Homo sapiens: one gene and its partner. The protein of the gene in region 1 purifies or fractionates together with the protein of each later gene. This does not show direct contact. Each region holds a gene or a part of one and is shown on either strand. Other genes may lie near its edges.

Region 1 (2,838 bases):
AATTATTTTTTGTATTTTAGTAGAGACGGGGTTTCAGTGTGTTAGCCAGGATGGTCTCGATCTCCTGACCTGGTGATCCACCCACCTCTGCCTCCCAAAGTGCTGGGATTACAGGCGTGAGCCACCACGCCCAGCCAAAGTCTTGCCTCCTAACCACTGCCAAACACTCCCGATGGAGCCTGGCATAAGCAAGCACAAAATGTGTGTCCTTCTTTGGGGCCTGACCTCCTTCCTCTCAGTCTGTTTGATCTCAACTCCTCCCCACCCTGCCGCTCCTCCTCCCTACTGGGCCAGTCCCAGTGACTTAGGGCCAAGGGAGCCTTAGAAGGTCATCGAATCTAGTGCTGTGCAGGAGAACTCCCTGTGAGGGTGGAAATGTTCTGTCCCTGCGCCTTCTCATGCAGGAGCCACTGACCACCCGTGGCTATTAAGCACTTGAAATGCAGCTGCTGGCCGGGGACGGTGGCTCACACCTGGAATCCCAGCACTTTGGGAGGCCAAGGCAGGTGGATAACTTGAGGCCAGAAGTTTGAGACCAGCCTGGCCAACATGGCGAAACCCTGTCTCCACTAAAAATACAAAAATTAGCTGGGCAGGGAGGCGAGTGCCTGTAGTCCCAGCTACTCGGGAGGCTGAGGCAGGAGAATCGCTTGAACCCGGGAGGCAGAGCTTGCACTGAGCTGAGATTGCGCCATGGCACCCCAGCCTCGGCAACAGAGCGAGACTCTGTCTCAATAACAACAACAACAAAAAAAGAAATGTGGCCAGTGCAGCTGAGAAACATTTTTTTTTTTTTTTTTTGAGACAGAGTTGCGCTCTGTCGCCCAGGCTGGAGTGCAGAGGCGCAATATCAGCTCACTGTAACCTCCGCCTCCCAGGTTCAAGCGATTCTCCTGCCTCAGCCTCCTGAGTAGCTGGGACTACAGGTGCCCGCCACCGTGCTGGGCTAATTTTTGTTTTTTCAGTAGAGACGGGGTTTCGCCATGTTGCCCGGGCTGGTCTCGAACACCTGGCCTCGAGTGATCCACTTGCCTCAGCTTCCCAAAGTGCTGGGATTACAGGCGTTAGCCACCTCGCCTAGCCTAAAATCCTGTGTTAATGAATAGAAATTTAAACCGCTGCATGAGGCCGGCGGCTCCTGTATTAGACAGCGCAACTCTACTCCAGCAGCTCACTTTAGGGAAGGCTAGGAGGGACTGGGGAATGACTTGTGGGAGATGTGTCAACATAGAAGCTAATAAAAAAAGTATTTTTCAATACCTCGTGGAAGTTCGTGCAGCAAGACCACCAGCCCCATCCTTCCCATGCCTCAGCAGCCCTGCCTGAGTGAGCTTTCCCCCTGCCCCTTTTCTCTCCCTGTGACGCCACAGTTCTCTGGGCAGTTGTCTGGTTCATGGGTTTCTGCTTCCTGGCCAACCAATGGCAGCATTCGCCGCCCAAAGAGTTCCTCCTGGGGAGCAGCAGTGCCCAGGCAGCCATCGCCTTCACCTTCTTCTCCATCCTTGTCTGGGTGAGGACAAGCCCCTCCACCACCCCTCCCTAGGAGGGCACCCTCTGCAGGGTGGGGTTGAAAGGGCTAGAACATTCCTGCTCTCACTTAGCTCCCCTGGGGGTCAGGGGTCGGGGGTTCCCCCAGGACTCCACTGGTCCCTTCCAGGTGCCGCTTCCTCTGAGCAGCCACAGCCCAGCATCAGGGCCTGTGCTTTGGCCTAGGGCTCCTGGGCAGTGAGCAGTCCAAACACCGGTATCTTTTGTCTCCTTCCCAGGCCAGTCCCCAGCCCAGTCCCTCTCCTGACCTGCCCAGCCCAAGTCAGCCTTCAGCACGCGCTTTTCTGCCCACAGATATTCCAGGCCTACCTGGCATTCCAGGACCTCCGAAATGATGCTCCAGTCCCTTACAAGCGCTTCCTGGATGAGGGTGGCATGGTGCTGACCACCCTCCCCTTGCCCTCTGCCAACAGCCCTGTGAACATGCCCACCACTGGCCCCAACAGCCTGAGTTATGCTAGCTCTGCCCTGTCCCCCTGTCTGACCGCTCCAAAGTCCCCCCGGCTTGCTATGATGCCTGACAACTAAATATCCTTATCCAAATCAATAAAGAGAGAATCCTCCCTCCAGAAGGGTTTCTAAAAACAGCCCTCAGTCCTTCTCATGTCTGTTCCACTCTGGTTGCTTGAGTGGCGAGGGTGGGTAAGAATCCCACAAGGTCACCGCTGGGGTCTCTGCACTGGGTCACATTTCCATACCATCTCCTGGAACCATCACTGGGGCACCACCTTGATAGTGACGGATGGGAGGTGGTGAGAGGCGGGAAGCACTTTTTTTTTTTTTTTTTTTTTTTTTTGAGACAGAGTCTCGCTGTGTCGCCCAGGCTGGAGTGCAGTGGTGCAATCTTGGCTCACTGCAACCTCTGCCTTCCAGGTTCAAGCAATTCTTCTGCCTCAGCCTCCCTAGTAGCTGGCATTACAGGTGCGCACCTGTAATGCCCACCACCACGCCTGGCTAATTTTTGTATTTTCAGTACAGACGGGGTTTCACCATGTTGGTCAGGCTGGTGTCGAACTCCTGACCTTGTGATCCTCCCACCTCGGCCTCCCAAAGTGCTGAGATTACAGGCCTGAGCCACCGTGCCCGGCCAGGAAGCACTTTCTTCAGGCCTGTTACACACTAAGTCCTGTCAAGTCACTACTCCTTGAGTCCCCACACTGGCCAGGGGAGGGAGGCACAAGGAGCCTCCTCTTACAGTTGAGGAAACCAAAGTTCAGAGAGAAAATGCTTCCACCCGTGGAGAGAGCACCAAGAGGAAGGGCCAACAAGGGGACCCAGCCCTGTCACTCA
Region 2 (3,827 bases), on another chromosome or scaffold:
TCAACCTAAAATTATTTAGTTTGCAATTCAAAATCCATCAGTATGACCAATTCATGTTCATGTATATAACATATAAGTGACTGACAAACTTTCTAAGAAATAGCAACCTTCCCTTAGAGTGTCTCTGAGGAAAGTAGAAACATGCACGTATGTTCTCACCTAAACAGAGACTCTTTAAAATACAAAGGTGTCCATGTAGATCATTCTACTGCATTGGGCCTCACATTTTAAATTTATGATTTAACATAGAATAAGGATATCAACATCAATAAGACTGTAATATATTATTAGACGATTTGGTAGATTTGAATCATTGTCTTGTATTACGGAAATTCAACTTTAACTTTGGACCTCTTGTTAGAGAAGATGGCTTGTCATTTTTTAGTTATCTAGCCAAGTTTTGTTGTTGTTGTTGTTTGTTTGTTTGTTTTTGAGACAGGGTCTTACTCTGTGACCCAGGCTGGAATATAGTGGCATGATCACGGCTCATTGCAACCTTGACCTCCCAGGCTTACCATAGCCTCCACCTCCCCGGCTCAAGCAATCTTTCCACCTCAACCTCCCAAGTAGCTGAGACTACAGGCATGCACCATCATGCCCAGCTAATTTTTGTATTTTTGGTAGAAATGGGGCTTTGCCATGTTGCCTAGGCTGGTCTCCAACTCCTGGACTCAAGCTATCAGCCTACCTCTGCCTCCCAAAGTGCTATGACTATAGGCATGAGCCACCATGCCCAGCCTAATCAAATTTTATCAAGAATGTTTCTGTTGCTTGCCACATCTGGCTTCATCTTCTACTTCATCATAAACTGAAAATAAAATAATATCTATAATAGTGATTTACATTATTTTTATTTTCACTTTACTTTTAATTCCACAACTCCCAAAATTCCATTCCTACTTTTTTTCTTTCCCTTTCCCCAAAGAGACTATACTAAAGCTAAGATTAAATATGTCTTTTATTTGACTAGCAATTGCTTAGTGTGAACTATATTGTGTTAGACCAGCATATCCAGATATTTTAGAACATTATTGTGCTTATAAGTATATATTTGTGAACCAAATTATAGCATTAAATCATTTATAAAGAACTACACCTCAATTAGAGATTTTTGACAAAAGTGTCACCTTTCTGTGACTTGAAAAATTTGGCTTCCAATGGGATCAAGACCTGTCTTGGGCTGGTCAGTTGTGAAGAGTTTTCTGTGTTAGGGGCTCCTCTCACCACTAAAAACTCATCAGATGCTAAATTAATTGCATACACCATACCCACCTATGTTGTAATTCAATATGCATCACGGGATTCATAATTTACTTCAATGCTTCTTTAATGAATGTGTAGATCACTGCCTCTAATCCTTTGAATAAACTGATGAGAACTTACTCATTTTGGAGCACTCTAATCCTCAGTCCTCTGAGCTCAAAACAAACACATAAAACCCACAGAGTCCTATTTCCAGGGTTATAAACTCATTAAACATTTACTTTGCTAGCCATGGGGGCACTCTGTGAGGTACTTTGTGTTCCTGCTGTGTGTCCTGTAAAACTGATGTTCAAATTTCATAAGAAAGAACAGATGTAAAACATTTCTAACTTAACAGAAATTTGCTTTATTGCAGACACATGGTAAGCTATTAAATATTTTAAATTCACATTTTATTATTTGCAATTTGCATTGTCTGTTTTTCAAATTCAATAATCTGAATCATTAATAAATCTTCAAAAATAATTGCAGGTAACTATTTTTGTTTTATTTTAATATCAGGAATTTGGGAGCTCATTTGAATAGATATGAGATAAATAAGCTGTACTTAAGTGTTCTACGAGTTTATTTCATAGCTACATTACTAAAATTTGAAATGAAAGGCAAAAATGTTTTTTAATAGGAAACACATTAGCAAATGCTGTAACAATGTTTTTTAAACCATTTGAATTGGTTAGATATCTCATTAATTTACATTTTACATTTTAGCATTTAATTTTACATTTAAATTTTAGCAATTTTAAAATGCTCTTGAGTTCACTTTCTTCTAAAAATCAAATAAATTCTATTTTCACATATTTGTTGTGAGAACAATTAAAACTACTCTTGGCAATTTTCAAGTATATAATACCTTGTTATTAACTATAATCACCATGTTGTACAAGAGATCTCTTGAACTTATTTCTCCTAATTAAAATGTTGCATCCTTTGATCATCTTCTAGACCCTTTCTCCACAACTCTGCCCCAGCCCCCAGCAACCACTAGTCTACTCTCTGCTTCTATGAGTTTGACTTTCTTGGATTCCACATATGAGTGACATCACGTGATATTTGTCTTTCTGTGCATGGCTTATTTCACTTAGTATAATGTCCTCCAGATTCTATCTTAATGAAGATGTATATCTTCCAGCATATCAACAATTTAAAAAATCATATGATAAGATTTTAAGAGCTAAAAAGCCATGTGACAAATAATTTTTAAAGTTAAAGAAAAAGTGTAGACAACAACATTACATGACAAAAGACTATAAGTAGATTGCAAAGTTATAATTTGTTATTTCCATAATGATCAAGGATACAATAAATTTTCTACATATATATGAACTCAGTGTAAGACCGTGATTTAAAGAAAGTGATTTGTTTTTAAATTCAACCTCTTAGTTGTAGTTTTTGAAGCATTTTATTTAGATAAATCCAGGCTGAGATGAACACAATGCCTAAAATAATTGTTAAATGATGTAACCTCAGGAGTGCTAATTCATTTTAAAACATAGCTATTTCATTATTTTTACTCTTTATATATAACTGGCTCTACTAATGAGAATTGCTAAATAAATGAATTATACTTATGAATAGGCTATGTTTCATTTATATACCAACTTGCATGCTTTCCACTTGAAATGGCTATTTCAGCCAAATGGTCAAAGACACTGAAGCAAGGGTCATCTTGTCATTCCTCCTGTCCTTTGTCATTTCTGAAGCTGACTCAGTAACCCTATGAGATCACCAATGCACATTAATAATCCTGACCCACCTTCTTCTCAGAGCAGTGTCTGCTTTGGGAAGATAAAAAAGGTAGGCTGCAGTTTTATTAATATGTTTGAAACCTCTTTGCTCCTCTCAAATGTTCTTCCTCAGATAAAGAGGTTACACAATGACCAGGTTTGGATTTGCATCCAAGAAGGTGATGGAGCTTATTTTACTCCTTTGTCAACACAAAAATGAAAGCAAAGCTACTCTTCATATGTGATGAATTCCAGAAACAACTACGTTATCAAAACTCCTTGAAAAAGTTACTTCCCTTCACATAAATGAAGTACATTTATTCTTATTCTCCTAGCATATTTCGCAACATGGCTTACAATATGAATTTCAACAAAACCCAAGAGGATGTGTGTTCCATCTTGGGATGGAAGGTTGAATAATGAGTTTGAACTGATGTTCTGTCCCTAGCAGCGAGAGAGGCAAGAAAAAAATCATAATCCTGGTGAGCAGCAGACAGTGACAAGAAAAAATAAGAAGGAATATCAGAATAAAACCAGAACCTGAAGAGGATGCTCCAGCATAGATACATTGGTACCTCAGTCCCAACCTCTCTCATCAAGGCCATAGGAGCCCTACTGGCACAAACCATCTGCCAAGCAATGGAAATACTCACTCTTTCAAATGGGAGGTGGAAAAATGTGAGTTTACAGGAAAAATCATTTTTTGACCCATTTCCAGAGTGTGCCAAGTTTGAAACCCTAAATGAAACTTCTATAGAAACATCCTTTTTCATAGTGATGAGCTTGTGAATGATTCTAGTATTAGATATTAAGAAATGAACATTTTCATTGAGTTTATCC

The links.
Region 2: the proteins of SYNGR4 (region 1) and GULP1 purify together in Homo sapiens (affinity purification with mass spectrometry; one large-scale study listed by BioGRID and IntAct). This does not show direct contact.

What each region holds. Positions count from the first base shown.
Region 1 is NC_000019.10:48,374,243-48,377,080, forward strand, and holds the end of SYNGR4 (synaptogyrin-4), read left to right. Parts: intron 1-1,370; coding exon 1,371-1,510; intron 1,511-1,842; coding exon 1,843-2,076; 3' UTR 2,077-2,135; downstream 2,136-2,838.
Region 2 is NC_000002.12:188,571,254-188,575,080, reverse strand, and holds part of GULP1 (PTB domain-containing engulfment adapter protein 1), read right to left. Parts: intron 1-3,827. UniProt on the Homo sapiens protein: May function as an adapter protein. Required for efficient phagocytosis of apoptotic cells. Modulates cellular glycosphingolipid and cholesterol transport. May play a role in the internalization and endosomal trafficking of various LRP1 ligands, such as PSAP.